Homo sapiens: one gene and its partner. The protein of the gene in region 2 interacts with the protein of the main gene of each other region in a biochemical or structural test. Each region holds a gene or a part of one and is shown on either strand. Other genes may lie near its edges.

Evidence for each region.
Region 1: the proteins of ENO1 (region 2) and DRC2 form a complex in vitro, tested with the Homo sapiens proteins (one study listed by BioGRID).

What each region holds. Positions count from the first base shown.
Region 1 is NC_000012.12:48,917,364-48,921,176, forward strand, and holds part of DRC2 (dynein regulatory complex subunit 2), read left to right. Parts: intron 1-911; coding exon 912-1,109; intron 1,110-1,321; coding exon 1,322-1,540; intron 1,541-3,566; coding exon 3,567-3,719; intron 3,720-3,804; coding exon 3,805-3,813.
Region 2 is NC_000001.11:8,861,565-8,865,377, reverse strand, and holds part of ENO1 (alpha-enolase), read left to right. Parts: coding exon 1-93; intron 94-1,285; coding exon 1,286-1,487; intron 1,488-2,034; coding exon 2,035-2,143; intron 2,144-2,432; coding exon 2,433-2,491; intron 2,492-3,813. UniProt on the Homo sapiens protein: Glycolytic enzyme the catalyzes the conversion of 2-phosphoglycerate to phosphoenolpyruvate. In addition to glycolysis, involved in various processes such as growth control, hypoxia tolerance and allergic responses.

The DNA of each region.
Region 1 (3,813 bases), on a different chromosome or scaffold from region 2:
TGAGGTAGGATGATCGCTTGAGCCCAGAAGATGGAGGCTGTAGTGAACTGTGATAGCAACACTGCCCTCCAGCCTGGGTGACAGAGCGAGACCCTGTCTCAAAAAAATTAAAAAAAGAAAAAAAGAAAAATGCTCAAGGCTACTAGAAGTAGAAGAGACCCCTTTAGCCAACACAGTCAATAAAACATCTATTGCCCCCTGTAGGTATCCCTAATGCTTTTTGTAATTTTGTGAAAATTGGTTGGGAGGGAGGACCATTCTAAATTGTCAAGGGAATGCATTTTAGAGCTAAAAAGCACCAAGGAGATCATCTGGCTTCACCCCTGTGATTTTCAGATGAAGAAAGTAAGGCACAAGTAAGTAAAATGACCTGCCAAAGTCATGCTGCTGGTTTGTGGTAGAATCAGGAGAATCTAGGTCTCCTGCCCCTTGATCCAAAGTGCTTTCCACTGTCCTCGAGGTTGCAATCTTAGCCAGCCCACAGACCTAGGTTTGGGTATGGAGTTCTTTGTTTTTATTTACCCCACAGTGTTTTATACAATTTTTTGAATAAGCATCCTACACTTAAAAATTGGAGATTTCACAAAAACATCCAAATTTTCAGCTTCCCTTGAAAAATTTAAAGATCTGGCAACACTGGGCCACATTTCCAAATGGCAAGGCTCACGTGGAGCTCAGTGACTGCCCCTCCTCCTCCCAAATGCAGCATTTCCTCTCCAGTTCACCACAGGCCCCACCCGGCCCACAAAACATATTTATATCATCTGCCTGGTCTTGTGTAGGCATTTTCATGGGAGACCTCTGTACTAAACTATGCTACAAACAGTTCAAGAGGGTGGGATTGCTGGTAGAAGTGAAAGGGCACTAATAAGGTAATTCCAAACATTTGCTATTTTGGGGTCACTTGCTAGAATTTAGAAGAGAAGCACTTTCTAAGACTGCACCTGGAGAACAGAGTAGAAGATCTGTGGAGAAAGTTCCAGGATGTACTCAAGAATTACACTGATGCCACAGAGGATCGAAAGGCTGCCTTTGAGACCCTGCAGGTGAAGGATGAGAAGAGCTCCAAAGAGATTGAAGTACAGATGAAAAAAATACAGAAACTACAGGTTAGTGTAGCCACCTGGAAATACTCACTGCTTTAACTGCTCTATTATCCCCTCTTTTGCTTCCCCTTGTTTCCCCTGGGCCTCATCACTGATCATTGGTTGGGAAAAGATGATATGCTCTGATTTCAGTCCCCAGGCAGCCCTTTTACCTGTCTCACTGAAGACCCTCAGTTGGTCAAGTAGATTTCCCCTAATCTACTCTGTTCCTCTAGGATGCCATAACTATTTCAAAAGGCAAGATCATGATACACAGCCGTGAGAGTGAAGATGAGAACCGGTATATCCGTAATGACAAGGAATTGGTCCTTGTACAACTGCGAAAACTTAAGGCCCAAAGAACTCAGGCCCGGGCAGCATCCCAGAAGAACTTAGTCAGACTCACCCTGGAAAGTAATGCCACCCTCAAGGCCCTGAGAAAGATTGTTGATAAGGTAACACAGGGGAGAGGACTATCAGAATAAAGTCAAGGAACCTGCCTCCCTGCAAAGTGAAAGGGATTTGGAAAGGATAGCGGGGGCTTCTTCCTGCTTCCTGGCTGAGTGGACACTTGGAATACCTTTTTTATTCCATGTTTCCTCCCCTCTTACATTAAATTAAATTAATTTATTTATTTATGTATTTCTACAGATGGGGTCTCACTGTGTTGCCCAGGATGGTTATGAACTCCTGGCCTCAAGCAGTCCTCTTGCCTTGGCCTCCCAAAGTGCTGGGATTAGAGGCGTGAGCCACCCTGGTGAGCCCCTTCCTACTTTTTTTTTTTTTTCTTTTTGGTGAGACAGGGTCTCACTCTGTCTCCCAGGCTGGAGTGCAGTGGCACCATCTTGGCTCACTGCAACCTCTGCCTCCTGGGCTCAAGCATTCCTCCCGCCACAGCCTCCCCAATGCACAGCTAACTTTTGTATTTTTTGTAGAGATGGGGTTTCGCCATGTTGCCCAGGCTGGGTCAAACTCCTGGCCTCAGACGATCTTCCCACCCTGGCTTTCTAAAATGCTGGGATTACAGGCATGAGCCACTGCGTTGAGCTCCCCCTTACATTTTAATTAATTATTTTTTTTTTTGAGACGAAGTTTTATTCACTCTGTTGCCCCGGCTGGAGTGCAGTGGCATGATCTTGGCTCGCTGCAACCTTTACCTCCCCAGTTCAAGCAATTCTCCTGCCTCAGCCTCCTGAGTAGCTGGAATTACAGGTGCGCACCACCACACCCGGCTAATTTTTGTATTTTTAGTGGAGACAGGGTTTCACCATGTTGGCCAGGACGTTCTCGAACTCCTGACCTCAGCGATCCACCCACTTTGGCTTCTCAAGTGCTGGGATTACAGGCGTGAGCCACCGCGTCTGGTCTACATTTTAAATTGAAATGAATTGGCCAGGCATGGTGGCTCATGCCTGTAATCCCAGCACTTTGGGAGGCCAAGGTGGGAGGATTGCTTGAGCCCAAGAGTTTGAGACCACCCTGAGCAACACAGGGAGAGCCCATCTCTACCAAAAAAAAGCTGGGCATAGTGGCACATGCCTGTGAGCCCAGATACTTGGGAAGCTGAGATGGGAGGACCACTTGAGCCTGGGACATCGCGGCTGCAGTGAGCCAGGATTGCACCACTGCACCCCAGCCTGGGTGACAGAGTAAGACCCTGTCTAAAAAAAAAAAAAAAAAAAAAAAAAAGAATTAATAATGAATGAGTTTTGGCTGGGCGCAGTGGCTCACACCTGTAATCCCAACACTTTGGGAGGCCGAGGCAGGTGGATTACTTGAGGTTGGGAGTTCGAGACCAGCCTGACCAACATGGAGAAACTCCATCTCTACTAAAAATACAAAATTAGCCAGGCATGGTGGCACATGCCTGTAATCCCAGCTACTCGGGAAGCTGAGGCAGGAGAATCGCTTGAACCCTGGAGGCAGAGGTTGCGGTGAGTCGAGATCGCGCCACTGCACTCCAGCCTGGGCAACAAGAGCGAAACTCCATCTTAAAAAAAAAAAAAAAAAAAAAAAAAAGAATGAGAGAATGAGTTTGTTTTTTTTTTAAAGGAATGAATTATTAATAATGAATGATTTTTTTTTTTTTTTGAGACAGGGTCTCGCTCAGTTGCCCAGGCTGGAGTGTGGTGGCACCATCTCGTCTCACTCCAGCCTCTGCCTCCTGGGCTCAAGTGATCCTTCCATCTCAGCCTCCCCAGTAGCTGAGACTGTAGGCATGTGCTACCATGCCTGGCTTTTAAATAATTTTTTGTAGAGATGGGGTCTTTCTATGTTTCCCAGGCTATGAATCAATTTTACAATAAGAAAATACTTGGAATAGTGTGTGTTACATGGTAACCTCCATTTGCTATATGTATTTATTGCTATTGTTTCCCACTTGGATGAGTAGCTTCCCTGGGTTCAAACAGGGGAACCAACTCCACTAGCTTCCCTCTTCACTCCCTTTCCTAATATAAACTCTCTTCCCGCTTCAAATAGGGTGAAAAGATCCTTAAACTTGCTGAAATATGTAGGAAATTTGAAACCGAAGAAGAAAAAGTGCTGCCTTTTTATTCATCAGTATTGACTCCTAAGGAGCAGGAGGGGATTCAGAAGAATAATCTAGAAGAGCTTACTGAGGAGCTCACCAAGGTAAAGCCCGGGGGATGGTGGGGCATTGGGCAGCATTTGCTAATGGGTCTCGCTGCACACCTTCTCCCTGTAACTCCACTCCCAGGTGATGGTG
Region 2 (3,813 bases):
ACCTGGACTTCAAGTCTCCCGATGACCCCAGCAGGTACATCTCGCCTGACCAGCTGGCTGACCTGTACAAGTCCTTCATCAAGGACTACCCAGGTGAGTGTTCCCCGAGTGCCATCTCCCTTTCCTGCCACTGACCTGCAGCAGGGCAGCTGGAGCATCTGGCTGGCTGGTGATGGCTGCAAGGAGGGGATGGGGAGGGAGTGTCTGAACTTCCAGCTCCCGTAGGGGATTCACCACTGGGTTTGCCCCCAGTTGTGCATACACAGGGCTTCACAGAGGTTCTTGTGTAGCTAAGGAGCTCGGGTGCCAGCAGCGACATTGCATAATAAGTTGTTCACAGTCAGGAGCAGAGGCAGTCTGTGCTCCATTAGACAGGTGAGGGAACCAAGCCTTCAGAATCAGAACAGCCACTTGGTACTGAGATGTATCATGCTTCCTGTGAGCTGGGAATATTCATTTTAGGCTGTGTGTGTGCACAGGATAGAGACTGTGACCACCTTTCTACAGGAGAGGAAGCTGATGGCTGGCTGAATAATCTGCCCGAGAGCACACAGCAAATGGTGGGGCAAGAATTCAGACCAGGAAATCTGACTCCAGAGTCTGTGTGTTTAACCACTACCCTAAATAACTTGGTCAAGGTTGAGCCAAGACCCAAACTCAGGTCTTCTCACTTCTGAGTCTGTGGCTCCATTCTGATTTTCAGTGGCACTAAACTCAAACAACCCTAGACAAAAAGTGTCCTCTTCTTACAGGTCTTAAACAAAATTTTTGAGGCTGGGCATATGGTGGCTCACGCCTGGAATCCTAGCACTTGGAGAGGCTGAAACGGCATCACTTGAGCCCAGGAGTTTGAGATCAGCCTAGGGAACATAGCAAGACTCCATTGCTACAAAAAAATAAAATAAAATAAGTAGCTGGGTAGGTTGGCATACCCCTATAGTCCCAGCGACTCAGGAAGCTGAGGTGGGAGGATCATTTGATCCCAGGATTTCACAGCTGCACTTAGCTATGATTGCACCCCTGCACTCAAGCCTGGGTGACAGAGTGAGATTTTTTTTGTTTTAGATCTATAGATACCCAGGATTGTGGGTGACTTTTGTCCCCTGCTGCAGGAGTAGGCTGGGGCACATTGTTTCAAGGATCAGTTGGGGAGCTGTCCCCATCCTATGCTTTTGGGCATTGTGAGGCCAGGCGAGCAGCAAGTCAAGGGGGAAGCAAGGCTGGGCATTGCGGTGGAGCACACTGGGAGGATCACACTGATGAAGCGTGTCCCTCCTTTCCTTAGTGGTGTCTATCGAAGATCCCTTTGACCAGGATGACTGGGGAGCTTGGCAGAAGTTCACAGCCAGTGCAGGAATCCAGGTAGTGGGGGATGATCTCACAGTGACCAACCCAAAGAGGATCGCCAAGGCCGTGAACGAGAAGTCCTGCAACTGCCTCCTGCTCAAAGTCAACCAGATTGGCTCCGTGACCGAGTCTCTTCAGGCGTAAGTGTCTTCCCAGGCGAGCAGCTTTCCCGCAGCTACGGCTTGTGAATCAGAAAAGGGCCCTTTTGTTCTGGTGATGGGGAATCCTGCTGGCCAGAATGTAGGACTCGCTGGAATTTTAACAGGTTTTGTGTTTGAACTCAGGAGCCTTTTAAATTAAACAATTGGGGCCTGTAATCCCAACATTTTGGGAGGCCAAGGCAGGAGGATCACTTGAGCTCGGGAGCTCAAGACCAGCCTGGGCAACATAGCAAGTAGTTGTATTCTGTGAAGAGCTCTGTCAGAGAACACTAATCTTTCTCCCATCAAGGGAGGCTGAACCCAGTGTTTCAACTATGACAGGAGGGCTAAGAAGGTCCTGGGGGTGGAAGAGTTCAGGGGAGGGTGAGGGTTCTCCTCTGTGCTCTTGACAAAGCCCAGGCATGGAGGGCTTTAGCCATTAACAGCCCCTCCACTGCTTTCCTGCTGGCACCGAGGGGTAATGGCATTGGGGGTTATGGAACCAGAAAATGGGATCATGCCATCTGGGTTGTTCCTTGGCTTCCAGGTGCAAGCTGGCCCAGGCCAATGGTTGGGGCGTCATGGTGTCTCATCGTTCGGGGGAGACTGAAGATACCTTCATCGCTGACCTGGTTGTGGGGCTGTGCACTGGGCAGGTAAGAATGAGCGTCTCCTCCTTTCTTCTCTGACCTCAACTTCCTAGGAAGACCCAAAACCAGTGAGGCTCCATGTCTGTCCCCGTTTTGCTCATGTCCCCTGAGTCAGTGCTCTTGTTTCTGAGGCTGAACAGAATGGGGGCATGAGCGCCCTGCCTGTATGTTGTGGCCCCCACTTTCCTAGCATCAGATCCTCTAGAAATTCTCTCTCTGACACCACACCCTCTCCCTGCCAGAAATGCCTGCAAAGCTTGTCCGCTGTAAGCAAATGGCCTTTCTTTTCTCCTAGATCAAGACTGGTGCCCCTTGCCGATCTGAGCGCTTGGCCAAGTACAACCAGCTCCTCAGGTAAGGAGGGCTCCTGAGAACAAGGGGCCTGTGGTTCACTAGGTGGGGGCCTGCACTCAGTGTAGGCACTGCCCTCCCCCAGGAGCTCCTGGCTCTGGGAACATGTACAGGTGCAGGTGCACAGTGCAGACAGCCAGGCCCTGAGCAGGCTTAGGTCAGGACAGAGTTAGGCCTAGACTCCCCCTACCCACCCACTGCAGCGCCACCAGAGGCAGGAGCCTGTTCCACACAGTGCTGCCCTCTTCTGGTGAGAAAGAATGGGACCCCCTTTGACAGCTGATGCATGACTTTCTTAGAGCTTTCAGAGAGCTCCTTCATATGATCTGTTTCAGCGCATTTAACCCCTGTTTGTGGATGTGGAGCCAGGGCTGGGAGGGAGGAAGAAAAGGCCGAAGGGCACATGGCTGGGTTTCCACTTGTGAGCGCTGTGGGGCTGTTCTGGTCTCCCTTTCCTGTCTGTGTCCTTGGGAAGCCCCTGAACACCAGGAGACTTGTCCCCCCGCCCGCCACCCCGCTAAGTTCTCCCATATTACCCCTTCATTCAAACTGTATCCTGGAAATTTTCAAACATATACAAAAAAGCAGGTGAACAGTAGACGCAGGGCTTTTTTGTTGTTTTGTTTGTTTGAGACAGGGTCTTGCCATGTCACTCAGGCTGGAGTGCAGTGGGGCAGTCATAGCTCACTGCAGCCTCAAACTCCCATTCTTTTTTTGCTGGGGAATTTTATTTTTATTTTTTTGAGAGGGATCTCACTCTGTCGCCCAGGCTGGAGTGCAGTGGCTCAGTCTTGGCTCACTGCAACCTCTGCCTCCCAGATTCAAGCAATTCTCCTGTCTGAGCCTCCCGAGTAGCTGGGATTACAGGTGCCCACCACCATGCCTGGCTAATTGTTTTGTATTTTTAATAGAGACGGGGTTTCACCATATTGGTCAAGCTGACCTCGGGTGATCCTCCCACTGTGCCTGGCCCCAAAATGTGTTGGCCTTTTTTTTTTTTTTTTTTTTTAACATCAAGATCCAAACAGCTCACACATTTTGTCTTTTAATAAGGTCACTCTCCTTTTCTCCCCATGCCATTTATTTGTTGTCCCTTCAATATTTTTTAAAAAACAAAAGCATTAGAATTTTTATATTCCAAGAAATGGCAATGCTGACATTTTACTTTGCTCCTCTGCAACACTGACGGGGAGAGGAGAGGAAGAGAAGGGGCGGTGGGTGGAGGGCACCTAGCATGGTGAGTTGGGATGAGGAGAACTAAATACTTTTCTATATCTGGCTTCTCAGAGAAGCACAAGTTTAGAGGGTTTAAAGAAGGTGGACAA